Regions from separate parts of the Homo sapiens genome. Here region 1 is linked to region 2. Evidence: fine-mapped expression QTL. A gene starts in region 2. The other region holds a variant in brackets. All regions are shown on one strand. Distances are from middle to middle. Region 1 overlaps LSAMP (limbic system associated membrane protein). Region 2 holds the start of LSAMP (limbic system associated membrane protein).

Region 1 (5,386 bases), 190 kb before region 2:
AAATATCTGATCCTCTCTAAATTGCTGTTACAATTTATGCATTTCTCCTGTACCTGGTCCTCTCTTTTCTTTCTCTCTTCTGTGTGTCAGTCTCACCTCACTTTTCTATGAGTGGAATAATTCAATCCATTTCACCCTATCACTGTCTCCACTCCAAGTGAGGAGGAGAGAGGATGAATCCGATAAATCAGACCCTGACATCTATCCACTGAGTCACGTGTCATGAGTGGCAAAAGCTATTGTTCCACAGTCACAAAAATCAAGTCCTATTTTACCTTTCTTTCAGCTGCTGCACTCAGGCACAGCTAGCACTTTTTCCTTGCTTTCACATCTGGGGCTGCTATGCTTCGACTATCTGCTTCCAAACCCTATGCTGGAGGCACTTCTGGGCAAGACCCTGAGAGTGGTTTTCATGGGACGGTGTGTGCTCTTCAAAGGAGGTACACACTCCTCTGTGGCTTTCAAATTCTAATTTAGAATGGGAGGTCAGAGGATGCCCTTCAGCCTTAGATCTAGGTAGTGTTCTCTAAACTCCCTTTTAGCAGGGACCCAAGCGTTATAGTTACAGGGAAATTTTACTGACTAATGTAATTGGTAACACATTTACAAATGGAGTATGCCCAATCTGTGCATGTGTACTCCATCCCTCAGAAGGCTGGGAGGTGAAGGCATGAATAATAAGCCAAACACTCACTATGCAAAATGTTCTTTTTCTATTAAGTAGGGTTACTCTTTTCTTCTGTTTTTCTTAGTCCTTTTTCTCTCTTGTGTCTTTTCTGCTTTTTAACATTGTTTGGATAGTTTTCTTGAGCAGTCATACAAGATTCAATTTGTAAGAAGTATTCAAGGAATGGTGCAGTGTGACAGTTTTATGAAACAAATTTGGATTATAGGAAACAATAATGTTATTGCACTTTCTGACATAAAATTAAAGATTTTTTTTTTCTGAATATTTGCTGCTAATGATAAAATAAACAACAAAACAGAAAAAAACAGAATCAGCTTAGAAATCTGGTAGAGAATTATAATGAGCAATGTAATTTTTTTCTGGTTGCTTGAATTTAAGCTCTATGACCTTCACGGAAATTTCTAGTCTTGTTTATTCCTGTAACCTCATTACACCTACAGAGCTGCTGATACATGGTGGGTGCTCCATATAAATACCAGTTAAATCAGTGAATGGTTAAGTGAATGTTATTCTTTGTGTCATTTTTCCTTGTTGCACTTCCGTTATTGAAATTTTAAAAAAGAAGTATTCTTTGTTTTCTCAGTAAACATGGAAATATACTTTGACTTTCCTTAATGACTCAGAATTTTGCAGTGCCTCATTAAGTATGAGTAATATTAATTAACACTACAAAATTAATAACCAGGCAATTATCAGGTAAAATAGGAGGAATTAAAACTGATCCTCATTGATCTTAGCTTGTCACCCTTTTTACTTTTGACTGATTCTTTGATTTCAGCTTGTTTTCTTGTTCTTTATCTCATTCTCATAAAGGAAAGAAGAATGTGCAATTCTTTGGCCTCCTAAACTAAATTTAACACCATTGCCTTTCTACAAAATTGATGAGTGAATCTAAGGATTAATCCGTCTTCTCCCAAATTATTTTCCAACCTATATTATAATCTTTTTTTTACCATTTATATCAGTCTCCTTTGAATTCTCAGTAGCTTTCAAAATATCTTTTATTATCTGAGTATTACCAACAACTTATTTAAATATGGATGTTTCATTTAATTCTTCTGTATCTTTTTTTAAATCAGTTAATAATTTCCTCCATTTTAAAAATTAATGCTAGGCTAGTATATTAGAAACCCGTAATCTTTAAAGTAGTAAACAGAATGTCAGGGATGAATTTTTCTAAGCTTTTTTAAAATTAAATTTTAACAGAATTCTAAAAGAAAATAATATTTTAAAAAGATGATCCTTTATAATTGTGTACTATAATCAGGTGATGGAAATTTCTTTTAAGGAAATGTATCATATTCTAAGTAAGAGTGAGGTCCACAGTTTGAATCAATGAAGCAATAGCGGCCAATAGGAAAATTATTTTTAAAATCATGTGTTTGCCCTGCTTCCTGAAGGTGAACACAACACTTGCCTGACAGTAAAATAGAGTTGTTATTTTCAGATAGGCACATACTTCTAAAGTGACCTCTTATGATTCGTATAGTCATACAGAGACTGCTCAATTAAAAAGATAGAGGAGAGTGACGTCTATGCATAAGCTTGTACCTTCTTATCAAAAGGTTTACGTGTAACACTTGAAAACTATTGGGGAGATATTTTTCATCATTAAAAATACGTTTTAAAGAGAACCCCTACACATAAATGTACACATTCTGTCCTTGTTTCGCCAAATCTGTAGACATTAGGATTTAGCTTGACCCTACCCAAGGATTGTCTTTTTATTAAATCAGAACATTTCAGTTCATGAGTGGTGTTAACACTGTTCAACATATTCAGTAATTAGAACAGGAGAAATTCTACAAAATTGTTCAGTGGCTCTGCAGTCAGCTGTTAGATTTTCACAACCATACATTTAGCAATTTGATAACATGTCAGACTTAAAATGCCAAACTGATCTTACCAACAGTGCACATGCCTCAATCAATTGCATTTACTCAAAAACCTTTTTTAG[C/A]TTATTTATGAGACATTGGCCCAGAGACAGGAGTTAAAAACACTCATATAAAATATGGTTTGTTTGTTCTAACATTGCTCTAGAGGTATAAGACAGTATTTAATGGCTATACTTTGTTCATAAATGGTGAAGAATTTAGACCGGTTCATTTTCAGTCTTGACAGTCCACAAGATAAACTAAAATTGGAAAATTTCACCAAGGCTTACTTCTTATGCCCATTTTTAAAAATAATTATATGTGTTTGTGTCATATTTTAAGACTTATTTCGTTTTGCTAGATTACTTCTCTGTCTTTCACAACCAGAAGCCAATGTAATAATGATGTGCATGCAAGTAGTTTTAACTTAGAAGGCACTACATAAATGTGTGATGTGTGTAGCTGTGGTGCTGGTGGTGTTGGTATGCAATCATTTCGTAAAGTTGCTTGCAAAAATATGTTTATCTCCTATTGGTTGAGTGTACAAGTGACTGGATAATACTTTTGATAAGAAAAAGTCTCAACTAAAAAAACAAACAAAAAAACAACAAAAGAAAAACAGAGTGCTTGGGTCTTCTCCTTCTTAGCTCTCTGCCTTTATAACAGCTATCTTTATCCTCTGCAGCAGCATCACAGCTTGCTTTCTCCTCATTTTTCTCATTTTACCTCATCTCAAAATACTTCTTCTATCCTCACGCTATGCATCTTCCAGATTCTCTTTTTCTCTTTTTTCTACAGTCTTTCTTCTCAATATTCCCCCTGCAATTTCCCAAGTATGTTCCTTGGAGAAGTTACATTTCCAAGATTTGGTATTTGCCTCACATATAGGGCTAAATCTTTCATTTACATTCAGAAGATGGTTTTATGTGATTGTCTTTTTCTAAGGAAAGGAATGCTAAACTTTCCCTCCTTCTAATCCTTTCAATAAGGATCCTTCTTTACATTTGTATAGTAAATTTAACTTTCCAAAGGGCTTAAACAAACACACTTGATCTCATTTGATATTTACTGACACTGCCTAGTGGTAGGTAGAATTCTTTAATCTCCAGGAGTCTCTCTTCTCTCCAGTAAAAGCAGATTTATTAAAATAATAATAATTGGTCACAGGACCTCACATACACATTTTTTAAAATTTTCGAATAATATATAAATAATAATGAACTGCTATATTAACTTACTATAAACTATACTAATATATTATAAATGTAAAATATATAAAAATAGGAATAAAAATGAGTGAGATACAAAATACACAGGGTTTCTAATAATTTCTTCAAGTTCTCAGTGCATAATCTTTGGATCCTCTTTGAGACCACGGCATAATCTTCTAGGGCTTTAGTAACTGCACTTGGACACCTTCTAAGAGTGCTGGTTACCTGGAGGAGGTTGAGGGAGAGCTAGGATAGGACTTCTTTGCTGCTACACCAGCATAACTTCCAGGTTTCTAACTCTGGCTCCCTTTTCCTTGGCCTGGGTCCTCAACCTACGTGAGGCTTAGAGGGGAGAAAGCCAATTAGTGTGTATCTATGCCTTGAGGATAAAGAAGGAGAACCTAATCCTAAGACCTAAAGTCTAAGGCAGCATTTCCTTTGGGAGATTTAGACTTCAGCTAAGTGCTTTTCCTTGAGTGTTTGTTGATGAGGTAGAGGTGCAGGCAGAGATAGAGCATCACCTGGGAAAGGATGCAGCTGATTAACATTCTGGGCATGTAAAACAGTTTGTGCACAATTAACTTTTCTAAAATATATCCTAAGCTTTCAAATTATATTTTGCAAAGTGTAATTCTATCCTATTACCCTTAGCCACATACACCTTGGTATCACAGTACTGTAAATTATTCCTTTGCCTCCTTAGTGTTTACAACTTTCTGATATAGCACTCGTAGATAGTGATCATGCATATTCCTTCCTAGTTATCACAGTAAAACTAGGGCTATTTTATTCTTCTAATCTTTCCTCATGCACCCTAAAGTTCTTTAATCATTTTTGTTGTTGGTTTCTTCTTTCATTTCCAGTTATCAGCATCTTTCTGATCGTGGGGCATTCAAACCTAGAAGGGGGATGCCAGATTGCAGCTCACCTTACCTTATAAATAGGAGCTATAGGGTACAGGTTTCCTGTTCCATAATAGCATGTGTCTGTTGGGCCAGTGCTCTTATGCATTTTTATTATCTTGGCATCACATTGAATTATCAGCATGTCACCTCGCTATTTAGAAAGCTGTCATCTGATGCTCTCTTCTTCATAGCATTCTTCCACTTTAGCTCCATCTTTCTCATATCTTTGAATTCCATTTTCTTTTTCAGTTTTGCTTTGTTGAAAGTTATCTGTATTTTAAACAATTTTCTGATTAAAAAACAATTATTTATCTAGGAAATTAGCACAGTGTCCTGCATCCCATCTTTCTGAAGACTAAGTTCTTCAAAAAAATTCTTAGCCAACTAAAAGCAGATTCACAAAATGTGGCTGATCTTGGAAATCTTTCCAAAATGCTCTTAGATCATTCTCTTTTTCACTTGAATGTGTGTTATTCTCTATGTGACAGGTGTGTATGTGTGTGTATTATTGATATGTTATGCACATATATGTTATTATAATATAAAATATATACATTATATATTAATGCAATATATTAATAAATTCTGATATATATAATTACATATATATATCTGCATTCACATCTTTTTCTAAATTAAAGTAAGAGACCAGTTGAGCAAGGGTTTTTATACTTTATGTGGCTGATCTCTATAGCACAAGAATAATTT
Region 2 (5,386 bases):
ATCTGATTACTCCATGTGGATAAATCACACATGCAGGTTTATAAGGCTGAAGAGCTAGAAGGGAAAATCTGCTTTGGATAGTAGGATCTTTGGGATTCGTAATCACCCAAAGCTCAGGAAATGAAGAAAGGAGTGCTTACACATTAGCATTTTCTTACTTTTTACAATCTGGAGAAACACATACCCACACAACACACACACATGCAATGCACGGCACACAACACACACTTTCGTCTCTAACAAGGCTAGAGCTCCCAAAGCAGGACACTGTGACAGCCAACCAAATTTATTTCTGAGAAAAGGAAAGAAAACTTTGCTGCTGTCGGCAGCTCTGCTAGAGAACTGCTCCCTGATGCCCCAGGGTTTATGCACTATCAGCTCCTTGCACACAGATTAGAGGTTTATTTTCTATTGTATACTGTGTTTTTATTGCCACAACAAGCAATATTACCTAGATAGACAGACTGACACTGGGTCATTTTATTTGGAGGAAATGAGATTTTTAAAAGATCTCCAAGGAGAGTGATTCTTTCTTTTTGTTAGCATCTGCCAGAAATTCAAGGAAAGCTAGAAAAAAGAACAAGGGGTAGGTACAGTTGGTGGAGAGGAGGAAGAGAAAAGAGAAGCACAAAAAATAACCTTGGAGCATTTTAGAAATAAAAATATGACTAGGTCTCATTTGAGTCTCTCTAGCTCACAGTACCTGATAGGGGTCAAACTCCCAAGGACTTGGGACTCTTCTTTCCAAATTTCAATCTCAAATTATTTTAGAGTTTGCCAGAGCTGCACAGAAAAAAAGACTTTGAAGTCAATAATCAATTTGAAATATCCATTTTATGCCAGGTTAATTCTCTCCCAACCTCTGTGTTTAACACTCCTACTCTTAAATATCAGCAATTTGGCAAATTCCTTTTCTTTCTGCTCTTCATATCTTGTGTTGATTTATATCCACATTCCAGGAAAGGCTCAGTAACCAACCAAAGTTCTAAGATTGATTTATTGCCCTCCATGTCAATTAGAAGATCCTTACAGAAAGTCTTCTATCAGAAACCCTCACACACAACCTTGATATGTGTGTGTGTGTGTGTATGTGTGTGTGTGTGTTGGCATGAAAAACACACACACACACACACAGACACGGGAGGAGCAAGGAGAATGCAGTACTGTGTACTACTCTCTGAGAGCCATAATCCAACAACCTTTCTTTCAGAATTAAGGACCCCCAACAAAACTCTCAAGTGCAATGCCACAGCAATTACAATAGTGAGAATACTGCCCAGAAGTCACTAATGCCATGGGTGAAGTTAGGCTTCCTTGATAAGAGAAACAAGGTCCTAAGAACCGAACAACATTTAACCAACACCACTGCTGCTTGACAGGGACCAGAATTCCCTTGAATTTTGTTAGCTATAATGCCAACCAGTCAGTAAAACAGGGACACACACACACACACCACACACACACACACCACAAGCCTGCAGCATCAGGAGCTGGAGTTCAAGGAGATCAGACACACACACACACACACACACAAACACACACACACACACACACACACGTGTAGACGCGCGCAGCAGAAAAGTTGCCCGAAAGCCCTACCTGAGGATGGCTGTGTCCCCCTGCCTCACGGTGATGTTGTCCGTGCCTCGGTTAAAATCCACGCTGCGAACAGGCAGTCCTGTGGGAAGAAGGCAGAGCAATCTCAGTAGGACCAGTGGCAACTGTTTCCGATCCGGCTGAACTCTCCTGACCATGGTGGCCACGCCGAGGTGCGGGTCCGCGGGGTGCTCTGGAGGGGTGCGCGCTGCTCGCGAGGAGAGGCTTCACCAACACGGGGCTTTCATCCACAGCGAGCGCAGAGCGGGCTTTGCCAGTTTATGGTCCTTTCCACTTTGCCTCTCTCTTTCCCTCGCTCAGTCTCTTTTCCCTCTAAGACTTAACAAAGCCCTCATAAAACCCAAGCAGAAGGGTGAAAAGTAAAAGCAACACAATTTCAAAAGAGAGAGTGCAAATAGCAAGCCCTCTGGAAGAGCTGAAGAGGAAGCCAAAGGAAAGGGTTCTTGTTTGGTCTCTCTGTGACTGGATGCTCCTCTGCCAGTGTCTGAGCTGAGCTCCTTCGCTCTGTAACCCACTTTCCCAGGCTGGCGGGCGGGCGGGCGAGGGAGCCGGCACCAAGCCTGCCAGTGAGTGTACAGAAACAGCCACACAGCAGCAGCAGCAGCAGAAGCAGCAGCAACCCAGAGCCTCTCTCCCCCTCCTCCCTTTCCTGTTTCTCCCAGTCCCTGGCGCTCTCTCAGCTCAGCACCTCCCCCCCACCCCCCCACCCTCCCCCCACCCTGCTGGTTTTCAACAGCCCCTCCACGTCATCCCCTCCGCCCTCCCCTCGACGTGGCCCCTCGCTTTGCACAACTGCCCCCTTCAGCAGCAGCCAGCCTCAATGAAAGCCTGATGCGCCTTTGGGTTGTCAGGACGACAGCTCCATCTGAGGCCTGGCTGATTTCCTTAAGAAGGGGGAACGGAGCTTAGAGGTACTGTTCAGGAGAGAGGGGAGAAGGAGAGGGACTTAAGTTATAAAAGAACAGGAGAAAGAGTCCAGGAAAGGAGAGGGAAGGGGTGAGGAAAGAAGAAAAAGGAGGTGGGAAGGAGAGTTGCAAATGAGGGGAGTGGGACAGAGGACAGGAAAGCTTTGAGGTGGGGAGTGAGGGTGGGGAATGTCCTGAAAGATGGGAGAAGGAAACTGAGGAGAAACTTGACAGTGGAGTCTAAGATTAAAAGCCAAAGTTGATTTCAAACGAAACATTCTTGGCAACTGGCTTTGCGTGTTCAAGTCTTGTTCATTCTTTCCTCTTTCCTGCACTTTCTCTTACAGGATTAAAATGGTTTATTTTCTCTCCTTCCTTCATCCCCTCCCCCTCTTGGAACCCCTTTATGAAAGATGGATTGGAGACAATGCTGGTATTGAGTGGTCTGGGGTGTGAATGCTTGGCTTGTTTTTTCCAAGTGCCAGCCTCAGCAGCTGATCCCTGATCCCTAAATCAACTTCACTCTCCAGGAAACTCTCACTCAATCCTACACATGAGTAATGGTATTAAGGATTACTATTTAAAGGGCACATTGAATTGCTACCCAAGTTCCTCCTGGCACTTACTTCTCAAAATGTTCATATGCAAGGAAGGAGATTTGTAAATCAGAAAGCTTGTCATTTGCAAGGAGACACTAAGTAAGGTTGTGTGCAGTACTCCTGCTAATGGCAGACAGGTTACCATCATTTGTCACTCCTTTTATTCCATGAGCCAAGCAAGTGATGAGGACCATAAAGACCACTGATAGTCACTCAAGTGACAGCCCCACACTCTTGGACATCTCCCTCATTACTGATGTTGAGGATAAAAAATGTGTTTGTACCAGCCAAGGACTTTATTTTTCTCTTCTTTGATTATATTTATTTAAATAATGAAAGTATTCATATGGTACAAAAACCAAATGGTACAAGATGCTATAGAGTGAATTGCAGTTTTCTTCTTCTTTTTTTTTTTTTTTTTTTTTTTGAGACAGAGTCTCACTTTATTGCCCAGGCTGGAGTGCAGTGGCTCAATCTCGGCTCACTGCAAGCTCCGCCTCCCGGGTTCACGCCATTCTCCTGCCTCAGCCTCCCGAGTAGCTGGGACTACAGGCGCCCGCTACCACGCCTAATTTTTTCTGTATTTTTTTTAGTAGAGACGGGTTTTCACTGTGTCAGCCAGGATGGTCTCGATCTCCTGATCTCGTGATCCACCCGCCTCGTCCTCCCAAACTGCTGGGATCCCAAACTGCTGGGATTACAGGCGTGAGCCACGGCGCCCGGCCGTAGTTTTCTTCTTATTCCCGTCTTTAGGCAACCCATTTCTCTTTTTTGGAGGCAACATATATTTTAAGTTTGTTATATATCTTTCCATAAATATTCCATATATATAAAAATAAATATGTACATAGATATTATACCCATCCCTCTTATGTAAGCAAATGTTTAGCCTAGGACATTTGCCAAAAATAAAATAAAAAGAAAGAAAGAAACATGTTTAGGAATCCTTATCAAACCCCACCAGAGCACAAGCCTTAAAGAAACACTGTGCTGAAACTGGCTTGTCCTCAGAATACTCAAAGCACTTTTTCTGCGCATGTTTTCAGTTTAAAAGATAGATGAACTCTTACAGATTACGTGAGGAAAAAAAGGAAGACCTATTTTGCTTTTAAGAAAACACGGAGGATTGGAACCTGAATTGTCACAAATCCATGATTGATGGAGTTCAATTAATTTTATGTGTACTGTGCATTCATTTTATATAAATCAAGGTGTCCTATGTCAGGGATTATACACAGTGCCCAGTTAATAAACCAATGTTCGACCACTAAGTTATAACTCAGCTGTTTAAAACTTGGAATCCATTTTGCCATAGGAGAAATAGTTAGGCCAAGTGGATAGTTGACTAAAAAACTCATAATCCTGTGAATCCCGGTATCAATGGACAAATGAGCTTCAAGTGCCAAACAAACAAACAAACAAACAAACGAAGATCAAAGATGCAAGGATTACATAATTTTCTGCCAAGATTGCAGAGAAAAGAGCACCCTCCCTTTCCCCACACCACCAACAGACTTGACCATCCTTGTCAGGCTAATTTTTTTGTTTGTTTGTTTTGTTTTTTGTTTTTTGTTTGTTTGTTTGTTTTTTGTTTTTTTTTTTTATACTTTAAGTTTTAGGGTACATGTGCACATTGTGCAGGTTAGTTACATATGTAAACATGTGCCATGCTGGTGCGCTGCACCCACTAACTCGTCATCTAGCATTAGGTATATCTCCCAATGCTATCCCTCCCCCCTCCCCACACCCCACCACAGTCCCCAGAGTGTGATATTCCCCTTCCTGTGTCCATGTGATCTCATTGTTCAATTCCCACCTATGAGTGAGAATATGCGGTGTTTGGTTTTTTCTTCTTGCGATAGTTTACTGAGAATGATGATTTTAAGCACTTAGGAATGAAGAGTTGGCTTAGACAAAGGCTTCGATTAACATATATCCTTTGGTTTGGTGCTTCTTCCATGTCAAGTGGAAGAAAAGAGAGATAAAAGGGACTGGTAGCTATGAGAATCATCTGTTTCCATTGCTGGTGCTAGGTGAATAGTATGACCCCCAGTAAGAGCAGAGATACTCTGAGGGGAAGGATTAGACATTTAAAGAGTATAAGTATTCTCCTGTGTCAGTCAACTAGATTTTGTATGAAGAAAGGAAAGTTTTTTTCAGGACAAGGAGGAAGTATGGTGGCTGGTAGCATATCATAAACAGAAGATGTTTATACATGATTGTTAGCTAATACCTATACTGGTAACCTCATACTACCAGAAGAAC

The links. PIP is the estimated chance that this variant, and not a neighbour inherited with it, causes the effect. A credible set is the group of variants that fine-mapping cannot tell apart.
Region 1: its variant is the best candidate, but not a certain one, in a credible set for the expression of LSAMP in sigmoid colon (GTEx, PIP 0.71).

Annotation. Positions count from the first base shown.
Region 1 is chr3:116,256,636-116,262,021 of GRCh38, forward strand. The region is part of intron 1 of LSAMP (limbic system associated membrane protein); the gene reads right to left. Among named protein-coding and RNA genes, the nearest start is that of LSAMP-AS1, 100 kb to the right of the region's middle. RefSeq lists enhancers at 153-709, 2,941-3,832. The variant C/A (reference allele first, on the strand shown) is at 2,646.
Region 2 is chr3:116,443,278-116,448,663 of GRCh38, forward strand. LSAMP (limbic system associated membrane protein) reads right to left here and starts at 2,210. Exons shown (of 7, transcript NM_002338.5): 1 at 1,600-2,210. The coding sequence starts at 1,754.